3 linked regions of the Homo sapiens genome follow. The protein of the gene in region 2 purifies or fractionates together with the protein of the main gene of each other region. This does not show direct contact. Each region holds a gene or a part of one and is shown on either strand. Other genes may lie near its edges. The genes, in order: METTL9, FAM20B and TMEM59.

What was found.
Region 1: the proteins of FAM20B (region 2) and METTL9 purify together in Homo sapiens (affinity purification with mass spectrometry; one large-scale study listed by BioGRID and IntAct). This does not show direct contact.
Region 3: the proteins of FAM20B (region 2) and TMEM59 purify together in Homo sapiens (co-immunoprecipitation; one large-scale study listed by IntAct). This does not show direct contact.

What each region holds. Positions count from the first base shown.
Region 1 is NC_000016.10:21,613,003-21,616,735, reverse strand, and holds part of METTL9 (protein-L-histidine N-pros-methyltransferase isoform 1 precursor), read right to left. Parts: intron 1-3,733. UniProt on the Homo sapiens protein: Protein-histidine N-methyltransferase that specifically catalyzes 1-methylhistidine (pros-methylhistidine) methylation of target proteins.
Region 2 is NC_000001.11:179,042,824-179,046,556, forward strand, and holds part of FAM20B (glycosaminoglycan xylosylkinase), read left to right. Parts: intron 1-891; 5' UTR 892-1,024; coding exon 1,025-1,401; intron 1,402-1,949; coding exon of another isoform or gene 1,950-2,018; intron 2,019-3,733. UniProt on the Homo sapiens protein: Responsible for the 2-O-phosphorylation of xylose in the glycosaminoglycan-protein linkage region of proteoglycans thereby regulating the amount of mature GAG chains.
Region 3 is NC_000001.11:54,026,181-54,029,204, reverse strand, and holds the end of TMEM59 (transmembrane protein 59 isoform 2 precursor), read left to right. Parts: 3' UTR 1-2,524; downstream 2,525-3,024.

The sequences.
Region 1 (3,733 bases), on a different chromosome or scaffold from region 2:
GGAAAAGAGTGGTCCTTGTGATGTCGGTTAATATGCATTAAAGTAGATTCGTACTTATGTCAGTTTATATGGTTACAACTGTCTGGGTCCTATTATTTCTAAAGGTCCTAGAAAACACTCAAAACCATAGTGATGCCTTTGAAAAAAGAGACTGAGGGGAGTTTAACTGGAGATTGAAGAGAACCCTCAGAAAAGCAACTATAGGTCCAGCCAAGTCTCATGGAAGCATCACTCTGGGAAATAAAGCGCAATCCCTATTTAGGACTTGTTTTCTAGCTCTGAAATTCTAGTTTATCTAGGACAGGGATTCTCAACCCTCCTTTAAGCAGCAGAACCCTTTCTTTAAATGAAGTGGAACTCACAGATAACATAAGATCCTAAGAGAGCTGCTGCTGTTCGAATGAGGTTGGGAGCCCAGGAGCTGTGGCCAGCCCACTTCTAGGCCTTTCTCTGCAGCCTGAAGCAGTTCCTGAGGCACTTCCTCCTCAGACCCTAGAAAACAGTTTGGGGACCACTGGTCCAGGAAGTGGCAGGGAAACCTGTTCTGTACTGCTGCTCTCTGGAAACAATCATAAGGTACAGAATGTTTGCTGCTATACAGTGACTGGAAAGATGCATGCAACACGGTGCCCAAGGTAAGACCAGTTTTAGGAAAAAATACAAATAATGGAGTTCATGTAACAAAGTCCCCCTTCCTTTTCCCATTAAGGCCATAGGAGAGTTTAACCAAGTTTACAGTAAATCTTCTGCCCCCATAGAAATGCTAAAAATTTGGAGAAAGACCTCAGAGACCACTAAACGTGATGCTACCGACTACAACTGCTTACCAAAGAAAATCACGTCTCATAAAAGACAAGTTGTTTTAATCCTCAATTGTTCATATATTACAGTAAGAAAATAAGCAAATCTGAACTTGCTGAAGTAGCTGTACAAAATTTAACACAGAAACCAGTCACAGCAGAAAGAGGCTACTGGCAGCATGGCTGAGGGGAGGCGAATTTCAAATACTGATGCTGACTTGCCACAGGACCAAAAGTAAGTCACAAAATAGTTATTTTGCTTAAATTTTCCCAGAGCGTGCTTCCCAAGCCATCTCCTTGGGATGTGAGGAATCTTGACATGATAATTATAAAATTCTAGAACAAGAGGTCACCTGAGCTCAGAGCTCACAAGTTCATCTGACTGGTCTACATTTATAGGCACTAGAGGCTGGGCATGGTGGCTCACGTCTGTAATCCCAGCATTTTGGGAGGCCGAGGTGGGAGGATCTCTTGAAACCAGGTGTTTGAGACCAGCTGGGCAACATGGTGAAACCCCGTCTCTATAAAAAATACAAAAATTAGCCAGGCACGGTGGCATGAGCCTCTAGTCCCAGCTACCTGGGAGACTGAGGCAGGAGGACTGCCTGAGCCTGAGGAGGTCAAGGCTGCAGTGAGCCATGATTGTGACACTGCACTCCAGCCTAGGCAACAGAGCGAGACCCTGTCTCCAAAAAAGAAAGAAAGAAGGCACTAGAGAAAGAGGGGAAGCATTGTCCTATTTCGAAAGAACATTAGCAACAGGGGCTCTACAAAAAGATTAACACTGTCAAAAAATAAATCAAAATCCATCAAGCCCAGTGTTTATCAACCAGGATTGATTTTGCCCTCTAGGGGGCAATGGGAGTAGACAGGAGAGTTTCCAGTAATCACAAGGACCTGGGGGTACTACTGCCATTTAGTGGGCAAGGCCAGAAAAGTTAGACTTCCTGCAGTGTGGGGGGCAGTCTCGCACAATGAAAAACAGTATCACCTAAAATACTGAGCCCAATACAAAGTTTCCCATAAACACAAACCATGAAGAGATATGACCCTCTAATTTGGGTTTAACTTTAGTGTTTAATAACCATCCTAGGTTCTCTGATCACAATCTAAGTTCTCTCTAGACTTAAGAGTCTACGGAGAGATGCACCTCTTCCTTATAAAATAAACTCTGGAACATCTACTAAGTCTTTCCTTACTTGGCCTTCTCCTTTCCAAAATAAAGGAAGTTTGATAAGTATCCTAAGGTAATACAAGACAGTACTACAGTAATGATTTCTGTGAGAGATGGCCACCTGTAGTAATTATCTCCCACTGCCATGACCGGAAAGTACTGATGGGCCCTAAAATTTAGTTTTTAGCTGAGAATGGGACACAAGGCAAGAAGGACTGAAAGCAGGGTGGGTATCAGAAGGAAAAAGCAGAAGAGTTTTAAGTAAGGGAAGCCAAAAGGGGTTTATTAACTGCATTGCCTCTTTGATCAAACTGTGAAATTCTAGAGCACGGAATTTTAACCAGGGTCTTATGGGTAGAGGAAAGGGGAAATAAAAGTTTGAAGCCCCCAAAATCATACACAAAATGTTGAATGTAAGCACTTTTTGAAGAGAGGATTCCTACCTTTATCACTTTCAAAGAGCTACAGGACCCCAGAAAGGATAAGAATCTCTGCTACAGTGACTCATCTGAATTCCAAAGGAAGAATAAATGGTATAGAACAGAAATTCAATATAACCAATTTAAGGAACAAAATGTCAGACCAAGTTGTATCAACTCAACCACCCATATAAAAATAACAACTGTTTGCCAAAGCAAACGTATGGCAATTTCACATAAACAATGAAGAAAATCAACTGAGAAATCTTGAGAAATGGCTTGCGGTGCCTGAAGACTTAGGACCAGATGATACACTGGGGATCCAGTCAGTCAGTAGAAACTGCTCCAAACCTCAAGGGAAAAGAAAAGTGGGCCCAACCAGTGGTTTGAGTGGTCCAATGAGGCTTCTTAACCATTGAGCCTGTTGCTTTTCTCTTTGGCATTTTAGATTCTAGGTCCTTAGGAATGCTTGAAAACATGGCCAAGAAAGGATTGAAAAAAAAAAAAAACAAAAAAAACTCCTAAAGCTTTTTCTATGGATTTATATGAGGGAACCACTCTGGGGACAGAGAATTCCACAATAAGTTCATAAAATTCTGGTGAACCTAGACATTATTTAAGAACAGATGCAGGACTCTTCACTCAAAATAAGCCATCATCCACTGTTGGGCTGACTAATTATATCTCCCAAAAAAAATTTGCCACTGCGAAGTATGTTTAAGGCAAAGATCTTACTTTTCAGCCTAAGGGCGTAAAGCCCTCAGCTTCAGGGCTTGGTTCCAGGAGTCTTGCTACTTTGTGGTCCAGAACCAGCAGCATTCAGCATCACTGGCATCGTCTAAGAGCTTGTTAAAAATGCAGACTCTCCAGGTGCAGTGGCTCCCACCCATAATCCCAGCACTTTGGGAGGCAAAGGTGGATGGATCACTTGAGGTCAGTTAGAGACCAGCCTGGCCAACATAGAAACCTCGTCTCTACTAAAAATACAAAAATTAGACAGGTGTGGTGGTGCACACCTGTAATCCCAGCTACTTGGGAGGCTGAGGCATGAGAATTACTTAAACCCGGGAGGCGGAGGCTGCAGTGAGCCCAGATTGCCACTGCACTCCAGTCTGGGAAACAGAGCAGGACTGTCTTTAAAAAAAAAAAAAAAAAAAAAAAAAAAAAAAAAAAAGCAGACTCTCAGACCTAGCCCCTGATGTACTAACTCATAATCTGCATTTTAACAAGACCCCCAGGTGATTCCTATGTACATCAAAGCCAAGAAGCACTACCGTAAGTAACTCCCGCTATGAATAAACATACTAATGAGGCTGTCACGTTATGGTGAATTTAAAGGG
Region 2 (3,733 bases):
TGTCCGGATATCTGTTTGAGTCTGGCTGAGTGCAGGGTTTTTATGAGCTCAGAAGAGAGGAAGTGTGTGCTGATTGGCCCATGGGTGGCCATGGGTGGGCCCAGAAAAAGCACCATAAGTTCTCACTGTGGTTTGCGGACTCTTAACCAGAACCGACAGCCCAGCCCCCATGCTTCAGGCCATCCCTGGCTTGAAGGTGGGGCTTCACTGGGGACCCATCCCTTTCCGCCCAGGAGCCTGCCTCCTGCCACCATTCATGTCATCCACAGTGCCCAAGCTGTTTGTACCAAGGGATGCCTGCAGGCCTACACTGAGCCATCCTCAGTCCTCCCTTGGCCTCCCTCCCATGCTCATTGGTGCCCAAAGTCCGGAGTGGGCTGAGACAGCAGGGGCCTGGTGTATCAGCACTGCCCCAACCACATATATACAGGTCACGACATCACCTGGGCTTTGCCACAATTTTGCTCCACCCCAGAGTGGGTGCGGGGAGTGGGGAGAGGCCAGGCAGCAGGAGTGGCATTTTGGAGCCTGTGGGTGTAGCTGTGGCTGGGTGGCTGCAGCTGTACCCAGGAACACGGGGCCCCTGCTCCACCATCTTGGAAGAGGGCAGGGCTCCCACCTGTTCCCAGCTCCTTCCAGCTCCGTGGAGTGTGCAGCCCTGGCCATGCCTCTCCCACTGCAGCTGGTGTCTTCGCAGCAGCTGCTCCAGTTGGGCCACTGCTGCCATCATTAGGTCCTTCTCCAGATTAGTTAATTTTAAATTATTGAACCTTCTTGAGCTCAAGAATAGAAAGCCTAAAAGGGTGAGTCATATATTAGAGGCTTACAAAAGATTCAGGGGTGGAAGGACAGAATTTTTGATCAAATTTTGCTTTGTACTTGGGCTTGCAGGAACTGTGGAAGGTGCATCAGTGAAGAAATGGACCAATGTGTATAATCATGGAATCTCCTTGCTAACCATCACCACCAGCTCTCCTTAATACATGAGCAAGAGTGGGTCAGGGGAGAAGGAAAAGAGGTCAACATGAAGCTAAAGCAGCGAGTCGTGCTGTTAGCAATTCTCCTTGTCATTTTTATCTTCACCAAAGTTTTCCTGATTGACAACTTAGATACATCAGCTGCCAACCGGGAGGACCAGAGGGCCTTTCACCGAATGATGACTGGCTTGCGGGTGGAGCTGGCACCCAAGCTGGACCATACCTTGCAGTCTCCCTGGGAGATTGCAGCCCAGTGGGTGGTTCCCCGGGAAGTGTACCCTGAAGAGACACCAGAGCTGGGGGCAGTCATGCATGCCATGGCCACCAAGAAAATCATTAAAGCTGATGTGGGTTATAAAGGGACACAGCTGAAAGCCTTACTGATACTTGAAGGAGGCCAGAAAGTTGTTTTCAAACCTAAGCGGTAAGTTTTGATCTTGGAAGCTGCATGTGCTAGTTGGTTGATTCATTTAACTTGGGATTTATATAAGATTTATTTTGTCATCTTCTCTTGGAAGTCTCTTCAGTAAAATAAGAGGGGTAGACTAGATCTCTAAAGTCTTTTCTAGCACTTAACATGAATCTACCTTTATAGTATCATATAGAATAGTCTTCCTGCCCTAAAAATCCTCTGTGTTCTACCTACTCATTTTTCCCTCTCTGCCCCAGAACACCTGGTAACCCACTGGTCTTTTTACTATCTCCGTAGTTTTGCCTTTTCCTGAATGTAATATAGTTGCAATCACAGAATGTAAGCCCTTTCAGATTGGCTTCTTTCACTTAGTAAAGTGCATTTAAGGTTTATACATATCTTTTTGTGGCATGATAGTTCATTTGTTTTTATCACTGAATAATATTCCATTGTCTAGATGTACCACAGCTTAATTATCCATTCACTTACTGAAGGACATCTTGGTTGCTTCCAAGTTTGGGGCAATTGTGAATAAAGCTGCTATAAACATCCATGTGCAGGTTTTTGTGTGGACATAAATTTTCAACTCATTTGGATAGATACCAGAAGCATAATTGCTGGACCACATGGTAAGAGTACGTTTCATTTTGTAAAAAACTGCTAAACTATCTTCCAAAGTAGCTGTACCATTTTGTGTTTCTACCAGCAATGCATGAGAATTCCTGTTGCTCCACATCCTCACCAGGGTTTGGCATCAGTGTTTCAGATCATAGCTGTTCTAATAGATCTCTTATTTCTTTCACCTGTTTTAAGTAAAGAATTGGGCCATTTTAGTTACCTTAGTTAACTAAATATGTATGTTGTTCATGATCCCTTTGGACTTCCTAGGGATCTACAGAGATAATTTGTGTGACAATTCTGTGATACAGTTAATTATTTTTATTTATTTATTTATTTCTCTACACAAGACAGCTTGGAGGGTATAGTTAATTTTCTAAAAATGTTTTCTGAGTGTATGAATCTGAATTAGGTTAACATCATGATGGTGATTTGTATTCTTTTGCCGGGAGTTAGTTACCAATGAATATTCTCAAAGTTTGTAATGTCTGAAATCTTTTGGGTACTAAACATTTTTTTCATTCCTCAGTAGAGCTTTTGAAAAAATTATAACATGACTTTAGATTTCTTTCTGGAGTGGGAGAAGAAATGTAGGGAAAAGATGGACAAAATTCAACTCCCTTTCTTACCCAACTATTAGTAAATGAAAGGCAGTCAGAGCATGAATGTATAGGGAGCCCAGAAATGGAAGGGATCACTGTTGGTCTGGAACTGGGAAATATATGTCAGTGATGTGGAAATTAGGAAAGTTAAAACATTTGGTAGACTTTCAGAGAATAAAAATTTGACTGGGGCTGGGCGTGATGGCTCATGCCTGTAATCCCAGCACTTGGGGAGGCCGAGGTGGGTGGATCACTTGAGCCTGGGTGATGTAGTGAGACTCTGTCTCTATAAAAAAATAAAAAATTAGCTGGGCGTGGTGGTGTGCACCTATAGTCTCAGCTACTTGGAAGGCTGAGGTGGGAGGATGGGAAGATTGCTTGAGTGCGAGAGTTTGAGGCCGCAGCAAGCCATGCTCGTGCCACTGCCCTCCAGCCTGGGTGACAGAGTGAGACCTGTCTCAAAAAAAAAAACCAAAAAACAAAAAAAAACCGTGGTTATGTGGGCCTGGGATCTAATTTCTGTAATGCACACTATTTGCCAGGGATTACACTAAGTACTTTTGTATCTCTTAATCCTTTAAACCCTTATACGAAGGTTTAACCTTTTTGGACAATTTCAGTTCTTATTTCCTGAATAAGAAACTGAGGTTCAGAGAGTGTAACTAACTTGACAAGGTCACCTCACATCAATCAGTGGTACAGAAGTTTGAACCCATATTTGTTAGAGTTGTAAACAGCTTGTATTCTGCCACACACATGGAATTCTCTAAGTTTGTTTGCTTCCCATAAGTGATGACGTGGAGCACTCATCATCAAAAATCGCATTTAGCTTTGAAGTTTGGTCTTTGACTTCTTGGCCTGAGAGATAAGCAGCATAAACAGAGTAATGGAAAAAGGCAAACTAAAGACAAAAATAAAATTTGTATATAAAGAGATGGCCGGGCACGGTGGCTCACGCCTGTAATCCCAGCACTTTGGGAGGCCAAGGTGGGCGGATCACTTGACGTCAGGAGTTTGAGACCAGCCTGGCCAACATGGCGAAACCCCATCTCTACTAAAAATACAAAAAATTAGCCGGGCGTTTTGGTATGTGCCTGTAATCCTAGCTACTCAGGAGTCTGAGG
Region 3 (3,024 bases), about 130 Mb from region 2:
TCAGAAATCCCTGTGGTGCATCATGAGGCAATCTGAGCTGCTGATCAGCAGAAAACCCTGCACTGTCTGAGCTTATCTTCCAGCCAAAGGCAAACAATTTACCCTTTGTTATTAGTCTGTCTGGATTTGTCTTAGATAAATGAGCCATTTTTGTTACAAGTTTTTTAAAGATATACAGTAGTTCCATTATAATTTTTGTGGACTCAAATATCAAGTCCACATGTAGGGAATCATTGACAGAGATTTCCAGTTACTGTCACCACCACACCAAGGCAGTAATTTTGCTCAGTTCTGCCTTTATAGATCCACAATTTAACCATTCAACAACCACCTGAGATCCTGAGTGGCAGGCCCTATGCTAAATGCTAGGACCACAGTAAGACCCAGTGCCTGACCCCAATTGCTGAGACTCTGAAGGAGACTATTATTAATGTGATAAGTGCTATGACCAAGCACAGAGCACATAGGAGGAGCTGTATGCATTATGGGAGCACACAGGAGGACTTCTGGGAGAAAGTGATAGCCAAGCTTAAACCTGGAGAAAAAGGGAACGCCAAACACAATATAGAGAGCAGTGTACCAGACAGTGGGGACACTGTGCTCAAAGACCTAGAGGCCAGAGGGTGAGGCACTGCAGATTGTTGAGTAGGCCGAGATAGAGCATACAAAAGCATAACAAAAGATGGGGCTAGGCAGACCAGGTAATAAACCTGCACTTTAAACCTGCACTTGATCCTGAGCACAGTAGAGAGCCACTGAAAGATTTTAAGCAAGAGAGTGCCATACAGTGTTGGAATGATTCACTCGGACAGCAATGTGGAAGATAGACCAGAAAGGGCAAGTCCAGAGGCCAACAATAATCTTAGCCTCAGAGTTCTTTTTTTAATACCCAAGAATACTATTTCATTTTACTTATATTTTTAAACTTTTCTCTATAACGCTCTCTCTGCTCCCCCACATTGTTGTCTGGATGGTAAACCTAGGACTGGTCTCTGAGTCCTGGTCACAGCCTGGCAACAGAATGTTTGAGCAAACTGGGAAGGCTGCCCCATGGATCCCTGGTTTCTTATCACCATCCTCTTAATTCTACGTTTGCCAACCAGTCTCTAGGAAGCCAGCGTGCTCTTGCGCCCCTCCCACCAGGTTTCCAGTTGCTAAGCGTGTCATGTTTGCATTTGGGTATCATCTGCATGAGTGACCATTTTAATCTCTCTTTCCTTGACTACTTGTTCTACACTAGAGTCTAGGGTGGGGGTGAGTACAGTGGTAAAGACAGGGATAGCGGGAAATTTAGTCTTCTGTTTAGGAAGCTGGATGGTAGTGTGGATTTTCTAACTCCTTGTGGTAATTAAATTCTGGAGCACAGTTTTTAGACCTTTTCTGAAATCTGTTACTGTTGAAGTCAGCTTCATATATTTCACTTTTTTTTTTTTTGAGACAGAGTCTCACACTGTTACTCAGGCTGGAGTGCACTGGTACAATCTTGACTCACTGCAACCTCCACAGCTCCCAGGTTCAAGCGATTCTCGTGCCTCAGCCTCCCAAGTAGCTGGTACTACAGGCGCGTGCCACCATGCTTGGCTAATTTTTGTATTTCTAGTAAAGATGGGGTTTTGCCATGTTGCCCAGGCTGGTCTCGAACTCCTGGCCTCAGGTAATCTGCCCGCCTCAGCCTCCCAAAGTGTTTGGATTGCAGGCATGAGCCACTGCACCCACCCTATTTCACTATTAAGTACTCTCTTCCTGTGATATTAATGACTTATTTGTTTCAAACTTTTTTGTGCCATTGAGCTTTTTAGTGATCCAGTGAAGCCTGTGGACCCCCTCTCATAGTAATGTTTTCAAAGCATAAAACTAAATATAAAGGATCGCAAAGGAAACTGATCATGTTAAAATAAAGTTGATATTTTCAAAGTTTTATGATCCAGTAACATACATATTCTGTTAACACAAAATAAGACTGCATGGTGGTTCTAAAATTACTATAATTCAAATTCATATCTTGAAATATCTAACAACTGTAATATATCTAAATGTCTCATTTCTATTGGTGACAAAGTCACAGGTACTCTGATCCTACTGTGGACTGTTTCCTATATTCGTAATTGAAGGAAATGTTATATTTCAGTTAGAAGTTGGTGAAAAGAAAGATTTAAAATTTTTCCCATCCAAGTTCACCAGACCCCTGGTTTAGAGGTTGTCTTAATTTTACTTTTGTCATTTTAAGAGTAAATTATTTTGTTTTCTTGTTCAATTCTCAATTATTTGGGCTTATTTTACTGCCTCTTGCATGCTTTTTTATGCTTGAATGGTTTTTGCAGTGTTAGAACAGTAATAATTGAAGACTTGGGTGGAAAAAAATCAGCACCTGATTGAAAATGAAAGGTTTCAACAAAAGCTCTTGATAATGTTACCTCCAGGTGTACCATCATGCCACCATTATTGGTGCTACAAATCTGTTAATTTATTTATGCTTAAGTATGTAAACTTTAATAAAACTTGGATCATCTGCATTAAAAAATAATGCTATCTTGTAAAAGTGTCTACTTAGGTAATTCACAATGGGGTGGGTTTGTTGATTCCCCATGACATTTGCAAAGCCCTTTGTAGCACTCTCACCTATCACCTTAAATGGATTCTTATAACATCCATCTAGTGGATTAAAGACTTAAATATAAAACCCAAAACTACAAAAACCCTGGAAGACAACCTTCAGAATGGGAGAAAATATTTGCAAACTATGCATCTGACAAAGGTCTAATATCTAGCATCTATAAGGAACTTAAACAAATTTACAAGAAAAAAACAACCCCATTAAAAAGTGGGCAATGGGCATGAACAGACACTTCTCAAAAGAATATATACATGCTTCCAACAAGCATATGAATAAAAGCTCAACATCACTGATCAAAATATTTGCAAACTATGCATCTGACAAAGGTCTAATATCTAGCATCTATAAGGAACTAAATTTACAAGAAAAAACAACCCCATTAAAAAGTAGGCAATGGGCCGGGCGCGGTG